Homo sapiens: one gene and its partner. The protein of the gene in region 2 interacts with the protein of the main gene of each other region in a pairwise test. Each region holds a gene or a part of one and is shown on either strand. Other genes may lie near its edges.

Evidence for each region. The genes of interacting proteins can lie anywhere in the genome.
Region 1: the proteins of NRF1 (region 2) and ESM1 interact in binary tests that used the Homo sapiens proteins (3 or more experiments, as listed by UniProt).

Annotation. Positions count from the first base shown.
Region 1 is NC_000005.10:54,982,594-54,990,209, reverse strand, and holds the start of ESM1 (endothelial cell-specific molecule 1 isoform a precursor), read left to right. Parts: upstream 1-4,616; 5' UTR 4,617-4,692; coding exon 4,693-4,993; intron 4,994-7,616. UniProt on the Homo sapiens protein: Involved in angiogenesis; promotes angiogenic sprouting. May have potent implications in lung endothelial cell-leukocyte interactions.
Region 2 is NC_000007.14:129,705,720-129,712,741, reverse strand, and holds part of NRF1 (nuclear respiratory factor 1), read right to left. Parts: intron 3,668-7,022; coding exon 3,509-3,667; intron 2,369-3,508; coding exon 2,171-2,368; intron 1,268-2,170; coding exon 1,166-1,267; intron 1-1,165. UniProt on the Homo sapiens protein: Transcription factor that activates the expression of the EIF2S1 (EIF2-alpha) gene. Links the transcriptional modulation of key metabolic genes to cellular growth and development.

The sequences.
Region 1 (7,616 bases), on a different chromosome or scaffold from region 2:
TTGAACAGGGTTAAAAAACAACCTGACTCTGTGGCTGCTTCCTCAGAGGCTCCATTGGAGTAAAAATCTGGATATAGTGCCAAGTTCTCTGAGAGGTGCCCAGACATTCTGGGTTTGTAGCAGACACTGCGGGTGTCCTGTCCTTATCTTCTTGCAGTCACTCACACACCCTCACACTCAGGGCTCCTGCAGAGCTCTGTGTGATGGCACCCCAGCTGCCTACGAGGTTGACCTGCTCATCAAGACAAATCAGAGAGCCCCCATATGGGCAAGAAGCCTAATTAAAGCAGATGCATTTCACTTTGCTCTTCTAAGCAGGTGTAGTTTTTGAAAATTGCCTGTAAATCATATATTGGTACATTCAATTCCACTTTGCTATTAAAATTGTCTTTATTAAAAATAGAAACTTAAAGAATTAGAGAGATTTCTTTTGGGAAAATATTTGCTCCAAGACATAAGATCACATTTAAAGAATGAAGCCAATCTTCAGAAATCAGACGCTTGATAATAATAGTCACGATGGTTTCATATCTGTTGCCCTGTTTGGCCCTCTTATTATTGAGGTACTGAGGAGAAAGGAGAGGTCTAAGGTATGTGGCATGTGACTTGCCTAAGATCACATATCTTGGCAGTGGTAAAGCTGTTTCTAGGCAAACTGTACTCAGGGCAGGAGGCTCTGGGAAGATTCCTCAGGCCCTGGGCTTTGACAGCTGACCTGTGACTGCCGTGAATCCCAGCCAGTTTGGCAGAAGTATTTCACCAAGTTCTATTGGCTATGAGGGGCTCCCATGAACTTTCCAGGGTGGATGTGATATTGCCAAGCCCAAGGTCAACAGGACAAATTTGGTTAGCTGTGAAGGAACTGCCGCAATGGGACTACAGTCTTTGCTCAGGCTCCATCCAATCCTCGATGTCTCTTGGATTGGATGTGCTGTTTCTTGACACCTCTACCTCATTCCCACAAGTAAACACATTCTGCAGCTTAACCTAGCCTGCCCTAGAATCTGGGCCTCACTTTGCTTCTCCTGGTGGAAAGAGAAAGAAAGGGAACACATTGATGCCCGTTTAACTTACTATCATCTGAAGATGATTCTGGGAAACAGTTGGTTCCTTTTATGTGTTTATTAAGTATTAAGCTCCTGCTGTGGGCTAGACCTTGCAGTAGGCACATGCAAAATTGCTATCAGCTAGTGTCAAAGCAGGAAGACTTTCAGATGGTATCAAAAACCACAACCAAAACTAACCTAAAAACCAAATCACCTAAAATCTGCATGTAAATGTCTCCACTTGCTCCTCCAAACTTTATGCCCTCAAGTCTGCCTTTGTAATTCAATTTAAACCAGACTTCTCTGGTAGAGCTGGTTTGTTAGGAAGGCACAGTAAGTACGGTATAATTCGCTTTACCATAAACCACCTTCTGAGAGTCTGGGATCTGCCCAGAGCCTTTCCACTGGACTACTTTTACCTATCCAGAAAAAAATCCTTGTTATTTGGTTAGAAGCAATCATAATGTACAAAATAAACACAAAATATTAATGCACATTACCAAAGCTTATTTTCCTAACACAATACCAGCTTTAAGAAAAAAATCAAAGTGGCATTTTAAGTATACAGGGTATACTGGGTTAAATAGATATTTGGTTTTATCATTTCTCTGCCCCCATTGCAAAACACCATATGCTGCAACATTTGGATCCACAGATGGTATGGTTTGACCCACCTTAGTTTGAACTTACATTTTAGGAGTTGTGAAAATCTTGTGCAATTCCTCTTGCCCTTTCTCACTCTGACTTGACAACTGATATACAGGCAGAGCAAGATGAGAGATGTTCCAGTCCCCAGCACAAAGCAAGTGAAATGGGTGGACCTCATGCACTCACTATCAACAGCTCTGCCATCATCTTATTGCTTTTTAATGCAGCTTAGAGTTGGCTCCTTGGTTGCTCGTGCTCCCATTTCCTAACCCTTTGTGGTCATTGCTAACTTTCCTAATGGAATTCATTGATCTGGGCTCAAGGCTCTGGGGAAGACAGAAATCACTAGATAAAAATCTTACAGGGATTGTGTTGGGACAAATGGTTTTTGTTGGGTCTTGGAGGGATTGAAGGTTCCCCTAAAATGAGTTGTTAGGCACTGTGTATTGAGATAGTTCCACCACTGGTGAACTCTATTGGGCATATTTTCTGCACTTACCTGTGCATTGTAGTTTGGTTTACTATTTGGATTTGGTACTCTCAACTTACATTTGTTTAGTTGTCATTTACTGAAGGTATTATCAATTTGGTTTCCCTTTATCTTCCATAGTGGAAGAGTTTCATGTCTTTATGTGCTATTCAGGAGGACGAAATCCACTCCATTCCTTCTGTATTACATCTAGTATAGCTTACCATGTCACCCACCTTGGGCACCTGTTTGGCACCTGTATGTATTTGATTTTACAATCCTTAATCCAGTCTCCAGAGCTTGTTGGTCTCAGGGCTGGAGTCCTGGCTTCACCATTTGCTAACTGTGTGATGATGGACAAGTTACTTACCCTCTCTAGGCCTCAGTTTTCTCATATCTAAGATGGGGATAAGAATAGCACCTAGCTCTTGAGGTTGTTTTGAAAGTTAAATGTGGTAATCTACATAAACTGCTTAGCATGGCATCTGGCACACAGTCAGATCTCTGTAAAGGTTAGATATTATTATTAACCACTATTCCAGTTAACTACTCCTCAGAAAGTGGTGTTCAGTAACAAGGGACATTTTCTAGGGTCAGCCTAAATTGCGACCTAGGCCATTGGAACTATTGGCCATGAAAGCACAATTATGTATTGTAATAGGCAATAGAATATGTGGCTCTGACATTAGACTAACATCCATCCCTTCAATATAGGGACCTTAGGCAAATTAACCTCTTTCTTACTCAGTTTCTTCTTTTAAAAAATAAGCATGATAATAGCAGCCACTTCATAATATTGTGATGAGGTGCAAATGAGTTAATGCATGTAAAGTGTTTAAGCTATTAACTCAACAAATATTACCCATTACTGAAAACATCAGAGTGTGCCACCTGCTAAGTAAGTGCTTCTGGGGAGATAGAGTATTTCAAATTGGATTGTCATGAAAAATTTGGAAAATTTGAAAGCTAAAACTCTTGCTTTCATTTCCTACTGCCTCAATTCTCTGTATTCTGAATTTACTCCCTGTGTCCCCCTAAAATTGCATTTGCAAAAGCCGATCTTCAAGTTACATCCAATGCCCGCTCTGCCTCATCTTCTATGGGAAACAAGAATTTTAGAGGTCAGGTAGCCTAACACCATCAATTCTCAAAAGAGGAAGCTGAGGCCAAGAGAAGTCCTGTGAATTTCTTACAGCTCATTTGTGACAGACCAAGAATTACCCACTTTACTGGGTTGTTATTTACTAAGTGACAGTGAGTCTATATCTCTTTTGACAAGTGAGGTGGGGGCATGGAATTCGGCATGTGGTTGGTGTAAGAACTCCCCTCTCTCCTCTTTAACCTTACTTAATAAGACCCTGGCACAGTTGATATTTTAAGAGGGCTACTCTGTTTTCCCAGAGGGACCTAGGCACGGTAACCCTCTTAGCATGCAGACCTTGTTTCCTGAGGGGTAATGTTTCCCTTCCCTGTGACTTGTTTCTTGGGGGCTGTGTTCTGATTTTCCTGCTGAGCCACTTGTTGCCTTGGGCTGGCTGCCGCGCTTGGCAGTTTTTAGTGAGGGCTCTGATAGATGCCAGGAGGTGAGGGGAAGGGCTCTGGGTGGACTCCGTCATTGGACAAGCAGACTTAGTGATGGATGAGCCTTCCCCTGAGGAAGTTTTGGATCAGAAGTCCAACTGATAAGTTTTTCCAGAATTGAGTAACCCAGAAGCAGTGCCGAAAGGATCTTACCTCTCTTGTGGCTTTTTGTATTGATTTTAAAAGAAATTCTCAGAGGCAGTTCCACATTGTACTGGAAGCACAGCTATATCCACAATAGGCTTAGATATATGTAACATGAATTGCTTTAGAAATAACATTTGAGGAGAGGGGTGAGAGGAAGGAAGAGAGGGTCTTAAAAAATAGCCCTATCAAAATATTTTCTTTCTTCTAAGTATTGAAAAGACACAATATAACCCTTTCTTCTTTCAAATGATCTCATAGCTATTTGTTGAGGGGAAATACCAAATGTTTATTATTTTTTTTGAAGAAGCTTCTTCGGTCCTGATGATTCATGTTGATATCATTTTCCTCCTGACTACAGAGGCTCTGAGACAAAGCTACACCTCAAGTGATATGCCAGGGTCAGAACAATTCCCGTCCTGAAGGAGGGTGTGCAACCTTCTTTATCCCTCCTTCACAGACGTCCTTGAGCCCTTGAGACGGATGTGAGTGAGTTTTTCAGTCCTCATGCAAAACAACCATCTAAACATAACAGATGACATCAGCTTGGGCTTTTCAATTCCTGGATGGCAGCAGCGTGTTAATCCAGCCTTCATCCTGGATTTCATAAACCAAAACAAGAGAGCCTGGCAGGAGGACAGCGCTGCTGCTGGGTTGAGGAAATTGATGACGGGAAAGCATGCGGGCAACCCAGTGTATAAAACTCATAAACGTGTAGGCAGAGGCTCAGCTACCAGTTTGGACGGCTGCTTCCCACCAGCAAAGACCACGACTGGAGAGCCGAGCCGGAGGCAGCTGGGAAACATGAAGAGCGTCTTGCTGCTGACCACGCTCCTCGTGCCTGCACACCTGGTGGCCGCCTGGAGCAATAATTATGCGGTGGACTGCCCTCAACACTGTGACAGCAGTGAGTGCAAAAGCAGCCCGCGCTGCAAGAGGACAGTGCTCGACGACTGTGGCTGCTGCCGAGTGTGCGCTGCAGGGCGGGGAGAAACTTGCTACCGCACAGTCTCAGGCATGGATGGCATGAAGTGTGGCCCGGGGCTGAGGTGTCAGCCTTCTAATGGGGAGGATCCTTTTGGTGAAGAGTTTGGTATCTGCAAAGGTAAAGAGTGACCCCTTACCTCTCCCCTCCCGGGGCATGCTGAGAGCTTTTAGCCAGCTTGGGAGGTGAGGTGGCTTTGCTCCTCAAGAGTAAGAGGGAAAAGGCAGGTGGATTCTTGACAAGGCACCACACAGGTATTGTCATGGGTAGAGACTGAAGGATAGCTCCAAGTAGCAACTGAAACCAGTGTGCAGGAAGGCACAGAAAGAAGTGTGGCATTTTACTCGTTGCCTTAGGAGATCGCAAAAAGAAAGCTGCAATGGAAGATTGTGTTGGCTCCTTTTCTGGAAAACTTTAGAAACTTGACAGGTAATCTGTTAAGGATGGCTTAGGTGCTCTCTCCTCTGCGAGGCAGCGATTACAAAGGTCTGCACTAGATAACCTCTTGGAATGGTTTCTAGCCCCCAGATTTAGTGATTCTTTGATCTTGAAAGGGTCCACAGGATGGAGGGCCACTCTCAAGATCAAATATTTCTGATAAACACAAATGCACTTTATGGAATAGAGTGAGCTTAAGTCATCTAACAAAATAACTCACTCTTCAAAGAGGGTCCCCTGAAGCATAAAACAAACCTCATCTGACTTTATAAAGGTTTTGGTCATCTGGAAAAATAGCAGATGGTGTTAAGACAAGGAAAAATAACAATAGAGAAAAATAAAAACTGGAAGTCTGTAAAGAATGAGGTTGACCACTTGTACACTTAAAGAAAAACTTCGTCGGTTGAAATTTTAGCTAAATAATGTAGTTAAGCATTTGTAGAATTTATTTTAAACATAGTAACTAGTTTAAAATATTTAACATTTTAAAAATGTTTAGAATAAAAAGAATGATGATTTAAAAATACTCTACGTATAGATATCTCATGATCTTATTATGAAGAGCTATTATTAAGAAGCAACACATGCTATAACCCCATCCATCAGTTGTGTAATACCAGGAAGCTTTCAAAATTATAAAAAGGACTGAGAAATTTCTAAATAATTATTATGTTTTATGTATTTAATACATTTTTTATGAATAATATTTATCCAGTATTGTGCTAATCTCATTAATTCTCCTACTTCTTAGACATATAATGTATAAATTAATCATCTTTTAATTTGCAAGACATACAAAATTAAAAAAACAAATTCTTAAAGTATTAGGAGAGTTTTATTTTTTGCTTAGTTTATTTTTGTTTATATACAATAAGAAATAGAATATTGAGAAAATATTTTGTTTGGTGAACACATATGCATGTTTCTTTCAACTGAATAGGATCTGTATATTTTGTAAATTATGGGGCTTATTGACCAAGAAAACAGTACTTCACATAAGGAAATTAGGGAGGAAGTGGTTAACACAATCATACTTATGATATAGCATGTATATGCAGTGGATTGCTTTTTCTCTTGGCATAATATGCCTTTGTACATGTGATTGTAAATGTACATTACATATGGGCAAAGAAACAAGCTGTGTGGCATCTGGAGTCTTTAGCACTGTAGTATTCTACTGAATGATCAAGATACTAAAAAGATCTTTAAGATTGCTTCTTTTGGCTTTCTTCAGGTTGCTGATGAATCTAGTTTTAAGCATTTTTCTCTCTGCTGGAAATAGGAGACTTTGTGAGCCTTAGCAACTCGAGATAGAGATAATACATTTGGCAATCATCTCCCTTCTTCAGCTTTTTAAAAGAACATCCACGTGAAAACTGTAAACTTCAGCTGCGTATCCAAATGTCTTCTAAATATTCAGATGTCTGTGAACATCTTGCCCAGATTAACAATCAGCAGCCAACACATATTTAATGAACACTTACTATCTGCCCAGCACTGTTCAGTACATCAGGGGATACACTAGAAGTATCTCTGGGAATTTGGCTAAAGTTTTAGTTTTCAATATCGCTGCAGGCACAGTCAAATCCTAATCCTGTGTGCTTTTCTGGAACAGGCCTTTGCAGGATCCCTTTTTAAGATCTCTTCTTCCCAGCAAAGAGAACAGTGTTCAAAACCAGGTTCCTCTGTGATCTGAACCATATTGAAAAGAGCACTCATAGATCTCTTTAAAAAAAGATAGCTCATTGATGATCTACTTGGTCAGTTAGTGGAGTATTAGACTGCTAGAGACTCAGATGGCTCACAATTTGTTCTTTACCCACCTGTGATTGTACATTTACAAGGTATTTTCACAACAAGAGAATATTCTATATCTATTCTGCTGGCTTTTAAAGGTTGGTTAGTCTACTGAGATGCTGTTTATCCTAAAAACAGCATTTTAAATAATTTTATGCATTTTAAATAAACGACTTTGTCCTCTTTATTTCAATGTAGGATGTTTTGGCATAAGTGTAAGCACTGGAGGTCTAAAAGCTTCTAGTTCTTGGTAGGTGTACAAACCCTCAGGGTGTATAAGCCCTGAGCTTTCTTGCTCATTTAGCATCTTGCATGTTAGCCTTGCAGAGGATTTTACTAGGGAGCCCTCTTAACTACTGAGGGAGTCAGGCAAGTTGTATGACATGCCGTTTCGACAAATAAGGAACTTGATAAGGGTTGGAGCAGATGGAAGATTGATTGCTTCATGGTGAGCTAGGATGATAGCTCTCTCCCTGGTTAGTTTGAAGCCCTTTCCTATACACTTAAA
Region 2 (7,022 bases):
ACTTTCCCAGGCTCCTTAGGTGGAAAGGAGGCACATACGCTTTGCAGCATCCCTTACAGGAAGGCTAGAGTTCATTCACGTAGACATCTCTCTTCCCCACTAGACTGGAGTCCCATGACAGCAAGGATCCTGTGCGAATCAACTCCACACAGCTGCAGCTACACAGGGGTTTGGCACATGCAGGGTGGCCAAGGAGCCTGTGGTGCACTCTCCCTCCATCTCCCAGCCATGTGGCCTTTGCCAGCTCTCCCCCTCTCCTGAGGGGCACAAATGAAAGTGACTTTGTGGTGTTCTAAGGGGAAATGCTCCATGGCTCTCAACAAGGGTGAGATAATACTCTTAGCTTTATTTCTGATACTGCTCTTTGACATCTGTTGGCTATTTTTCAAACTTCAGCACACCACATCAGTATCTTCAAGGGAAACACTCATGGTGACGTAACAAACCCCTTCCTTCACTGTTGCATCTTCACCAATGGCTCAGAGCCTAGGTAATGTTTTTCTCAATGCATTATCCAGCTTCAACACTGCTATGGGACTTTGGGCAAATCATCTAAGCTCTGTTATGTCTCGGTTTTCTCATCTCTAAAGTGAAGATAACAGAACTTTATACTTCATAGGGTTGAGTGTTTAGCCCACCAAGTGATCAATAAAGGTTGGCTGTCTTTAGGTTAATGTCCCATAATTATCCCAATTTTGGTAAGGAAGAATTCTCCTAAGAAATCTTTTCAAAGGCATATTTAAGATGTAATAAATCATGTTACTGACTTGCAAACATATTTATCCTTTCAAAGAAGGCTTCCCTTAGTCAGTTCCAGTTTTAATGTGACATTTTTTTTTCATAAAGACCAAAGATGAAATTCTTTGGGATTCACAGCATAAAAATGGTAAAGGGATAATCCCTTTGTATTGTGTATAATACCAAATGCTATACATTCAAATGTAAAATTCTAAGTTCCTGACATACTAATCCATGAATCTTAATTGTTACAATTAATACACATAGCATAAGACACTTTCTAAAACTTTCATGGTCTCATGCTCTTTAAAAGGTTTAAATGAAAGAGTGCCGCAGACATGCAGGCTACTCCATCTTCTGGACCCTTGCTTTTCCCTCATTATACATTCAAGTATTTAAGAAGATGCAGATGGAATCTCTTTCTTACCTCTCCATCAGCCACGGCAGAATAATTCACTTGGGCAACGGTGACCGTGGTTGGCAATTCTGAAGCATCAGCCAATGTGGCTACTGTTGCCCCCGTACCAACCTAAAGAAAAATATGGAAAGTGGTTAAGTGTCAGTGGATGGATCCTTCCACCTCTTTACTCAGAAGCTGAGACTCATTTAATCCCAAATTCAGCACAGATAACAAAGAATATGCCTTATGATGTGAAATCTAAAATCATAGCTCACTAAAATCATAGTTCAGAGACTATCACGAGTTTCAGAATTTTACTTCAACCAAATAAGTCCATATGAGAAAAGCTATCACATCGCCACATCCATGCCCAGTGTTGGTCAACCAACTTTCTATTCTCACCTCAATCTGAACTTTAGAGGTTCCCAATCAACAAATTGTGTTTTACCTCAGAAGAGGTCATTCAGAAGGAATATTCCCTGATCACTGAGAGTGAAACTGTAAAACAGAAGTCATTTTAAGGCCAGACATGGTGGCCCACATCTGTAATCCCAGCATTTTAGGAGGCCGAGGCAGGAGGATCACTTGAGCTCAGGAGTTTGAGACCAGCCTGGGCAACATAGCAAGACCTCATCTCTACTTAAAAAAAAAAAAAAAATTCAGCCAGGCCTGGTGGCATACACCTGTAGTCCCAGCTACTCGGGAGGCTGAGGAGGGAGAATCACTTGAGCCCGGGAGGTTGAGGCTGCAGTGAGCTGTGATGACAGAGAGAGATCTTGTCTCAAAAAAAAAAAGAGCCCTTTAAAAGTGCTTTGTTTTGGAAATGTCCAGGAAGCTACTCATAGCTCTGTATTTAGCAAATGCAAAGAATTTAAACTATTCTTCAGAAATCAATTTCAGGTAGGAAGATCTTGGGGAGCTATATAAAGTTCATACAAGAGTTCGCACAAAGGAAACTTTCCCTAGTCTGAGGTGAGGTGCCCACTGATCCATCTCAGAAGCCACAGTCTGGTAGCCCTCAGGTTTACTCACCTGGATAAGTGAGACAGTGCCATCAGGGTTACTAAAAGTCTGGACTACAGTCTGTGATGGTACAAGATGAGCTATACTATGTGTGGCTGTGGCCTGTGTTTGCGTTTGCTGATCTTCAAAGGCATACAAAAGGTCTTCCCGCCCATGCTGTTTATAACAGTTTTTAACTATGGTCCGTAGTGCCTGGGTCCATGAAACCTGTCACCAAATGACCGGAAAAGCACATTAAGCCACAAAGAACTTTGGTTATTTAGTCCCAATATGCAATAAGCAGCTACTTCTTTATCAAATCAAACCAAACCAAACCTCTTATTAGACTCTCCTAGGATTACCTCCCACAGACTGGTTCTGGTAGAAAGAAGCTGTGTACGAAGTATCAAAGAGGGCTTCTCATTGGTTTCTTCTTGATCAAAGTCTAGTTTACACCCTATTCCAACCTGAGGCCAAACTCTTAAACTTCTTGCAAAGAAAGATTATTCTGATCAAGAATGGCATATTAAGATTCTCAGTAAACTTCCAAGCTAAATGAAAAATAAATACGTGGCCAGGCATGGTGGCTCACGCCTGTAATCCCAGCACTTTGGGAGGCTGAGGAGGGCGGATGGCCTGAGGTCGGGAGTTCGAGACCAGCCTGACCAGCATGGAGAAACCCCATCTCTACTGAAAATACAAAATTAGCTGGGCATGGTGGTGCATGCCTGTAATCCCAACTACTCGGGAGGCTGAGACAGAAGAATTGCTTGAACCCGGGAGGCAGAGGTTGCGGCGAGCCGAGGTCACGTCATTGCACTCCAGCCTGGGCAACAAGAGTGAGACTCTGTCTCAAAAAAAAAAAAAAAAAAGAAAGAAAAGAAAGAAAAAGAAAAATAAATACGCAAAAAAAGTAAGGAATGGTAGGTAGTTTAGTCTTTCTTGTAAAAGTTTTGTTATTAGCAGACTCAGCTGGCAGACTTCATATCCCTCTAATTCCATATTTACATTTTCAACAATGATTTTTAGTAACCAGAAATAAAAGCATTTCTAAGTGTTCAAAGTGATTAATACTTTTACTTCAAGTTTCTTTGACTTTCCCAAGCACTTCATAAAATTAAAACTGCTCCAAAAGGCAACCCCGAAGACACATTTTAAATTCATCAACTCAACCCAGTCTTCTCTTTATAGTATAGTGATGGAGCGACAAATGGAAAAGGCTATAAATCAAAGAATATCAGTCTTTGGAGGGACAGGCTTAACTATTACACAAAGACTTTCTAGCACAAGATGTAGAAATGACAAAAATTGAGGTGGTTAATTTAGGATGGAAAAGCAACCAGGCAACTCAGTCAGAGGAACTCTCACCCTCTGCTTTTGCTCTTCTGTGCGGACATCACTCCGGACATTTGCCCAGGGGATATCTTCAGGCCACCAGATGGGCTTGCAGCTTTCTTTCCCCCAGCCTGGTTTTCCCCGACCTGTAGAGTACTTGAGCATCTCTGGGATAAATGCCCGAAGCTGGGCCTGGAAGAGAACAGTGTGGTCATCAATACTCATGAAAGACATCTGGGGTGTGTTTATGACTCCTTAAATTCTAACCTTATAAAACAGAGAGGTTTCCAGGAAGGTCCCAGAGAATTCTAAGATGTGACTGATGAAAACCCACTGTTTTCCATAGGTTCCTATATCTCCATGGGTGGTTGAGAATTATAAATATGTTGATAAAGTGCACCTTAGGCTGCATTTTGTAGACTTGTTCCTCTAAGAGTAAGAATATCTACCCCTAAGTTTAATTTCTGCTTCCCAAGATATTACTGGTACTATAGCTTATTTCCCTTCTACAGTTTTCATGCATGTAAGGTGCCAAACTCGGGGTGTTTTCAACACTGTTCTGGAAGTAGGAATCCATGCAATTAGATAAGAGAGAAATAAGAGGCGAGCTGATAAAATCATTATTATTTATAGATGAAGTCACCTTATATCTAGAGAATTCCAAAGAGATCAAATGAAAAACTACTACAAACAATAATGAGAATTCAATAAGGTGGCTGATTATAAAATATAGGAAAACAAACAGGCCTTTAACTTAATAAAAAGGGAAAATAACCCTAAAACTCTTCTAGAAATTTTCCAGTAAGCTAGGCCACTGTCCATGAGTCTGACATATAGACATAGTAAAGCATGTGTGAATTTAAATGCATTATGGACTTCATTCAGATTTATTTTACAAATCAAATCCAGACCAAACAGGTTTTAAACCACAAAGACAACTGCCATTCTTATTTCCTGGCATAGTAACCACACTCTGTGTGTGTTGGGGGAGGGTCTACTTTGTGAATATTCTTAATCGCTGATAATGATTTCTGGCAAGAAAAGCAGTTTATCAATTTATGATCTATTCCTCCTTCCCAGACCTACTGTCTTCCTTTTAACCTGGTGGTCTATAGCACTCCAGATATAAGTAGCATCCTGCAACTAAGGATGCACCCATACTGCCCCTGCAGCTGAAAACCAAAAAGAGGCCACTTTTAGCAATGAATCAGACTCGGGGGTGTGGATTTGTAGTTACAAAGTAAAACAAGAAAAAACAGAAATGAGAATAATTAAGTATTAATGAGAGAATGAGTACAGCAACACTTTAATATTAAAGATTTCTATAAATATCAGGTATTCTTATCATTCTTATAATAAATATTAGATATTATTTTACGAGAAGATGATACAAATTGTTACATAATAGGGAACCATGAACCCAATCAGTAATGTTGACCTAATAAAGTTCTGGTTGACGGTAGCCATGCTGTTAATTCCTGTGCCAAGCCTGCCACTTCACCTCTCTAAGTCCCCCAATGCCCCAACAGTCTCCTGCCTACAGGATATGATATAATACACTCCATATATATTTGGCTCTGGCATCAAGCAGCAGGCTGATAGAAACGTATCCATTTAAAAACCCATCAGCTGGCTCATGCGGTCATTACTTCAGTTATTTTAAGAAAGTACATCTCAAAGTCATTTTTCCCTTTATTCTAATTTCTTGGGAGTGTGTCTTTTTCTAGGCTCAAATACATAGAGCAAGAAAGGGCTTAATCTTCACACACAATATTTTATACTTCTTCATGTTAAAAAAAATGGCTTTCTCAGAGGTATAGATTAAATTGATATAGACTTTCATAAACTCCCTTTTCTTTGAATACCATTAACAGTTTCCAAAAAGGAGAATTCTTTATATTCATACCTAGGAGAGTCTGGAGAAAATGAAATGAGAAGGCTAAATAATTCTAAATTAACAAAATCCTAAAGTGGGTTGGGTGCAGTGGCTCATGCCTATAATCCCTGCACCTTGGGAGGCTCAGGCAGGCAGAATGCTTGAGACCAGGAGTTTGAGACCAGCTTGGGCAACACAGTGGGACTCTGTCTCTACCAAAAATACAAAACTCAGTCGGTTACAGTGGCACGTGCCTGTAGTCCCAGCTACTAGAGAGGCTGAGGCAGGAGGATCGCTTGAGCTCAGGAGGTCAAGGATGCAGTGAGCCATGATGGTGCCACTTCACTCCAGCCTGGGTGACAGAGTGAGACCTTGTCTCAAAACAAAACAAAACAAAACAAAACAAAAATCCTAAAGCGGGTGACAGAGCAAGACCCTGTCTTAAACCAAACAAACAAAACAGAAATCCTAAAGTGATCAGAAAGCACTCACTGTGGAGAATACTAGACTGACAGAGTCTGCTCAGATCCACCTGGAACCCTCTATATTCCCTAATTCTGGTGATCGCTTCACTTCTGACGCCTCACCCTATTTGCACCAATAGTTCCTTATGCTCCTCAGTTCTGGGTCACGTTGGCACCTGGACGTGGATATCTTTCACCCTCAAGTCTTCCTTCGGCTCTCCCACCAGGCCTTCCAACTGAGTTCCAATAACTCAATGTTACTTGAAAGGTGGGCTCAGCATCAGCCTCTTCACTTAAACTCCTACCCTACCCTCTCTCCAATCTACTTGTCTTCTCAACTTTTTTATCTTAGCAAGTAGAAAACCACCCTTTCCCCGGCCACTCAAACTAAAAATGTCAAAGTTATCTTTACTTTTCTCCTTCAACACTTACCTAGTCACACATTGCAAGTCCAGTTCTTTTGTTTTCTTTGAAACGTCTCTGGTGTCTATCCCTTCTTCTCCGGCCCCACCTTTATTCTAATTTTTTGGCCCAAGGCTAGTGTATCCTTCTAGTTGGCTTTCTTGGGAAACTCCAAGTTCTCCCTTCATTCCCTCTTCCCACATATCCTTGCCTGAGAGGTTTTCCTAAATGTTACCTACATAGCTCCAATGCTCAAAACACCTCCAAATGTCTTTTAACTATGGCAACTAAACTAGATCCTTCTGCCCAGCTTTTCAGACCCACCACAATCTGGCCTCACACTACAGTCAGTTCCCATTAATTCCCACCACTCAGCCTTGGTCCTCCATCAGACAAATCTCTGCACTGTCTTAAGAGCTGCTAAGCCCATTCCCGCTTCTTTGCCTTTGTTCTGTCCCCTGGCTGGACTATTTTCCATGCTACTATTCTAATGCCGCCACTCATTCTTTAGTGCCCAGAAAAGTCCTACATTCTTTGTGGAACATATACTAACTATTCATTCATTCTCTCTCTCTCTCTCTCTCACTCTCGGATCTTGCTCTGTGGCCCAGGCTGGAGTGCAGTGGCATGATCACAGTTCAATGCAGCCTCAACCTCCAGGGCTCAAGGGATCCTCCTGTTTCAGCCTTCAGTAGTTGGGACTAAAGGCGCATGCCACCATGCCCAGCTATTTTTTTTCTTTACTTTTCCTTCTTTTCTTTTTTTTCTTTTTGTAGAGAAGGGGTCTCCCTACATTGCCCAGGCC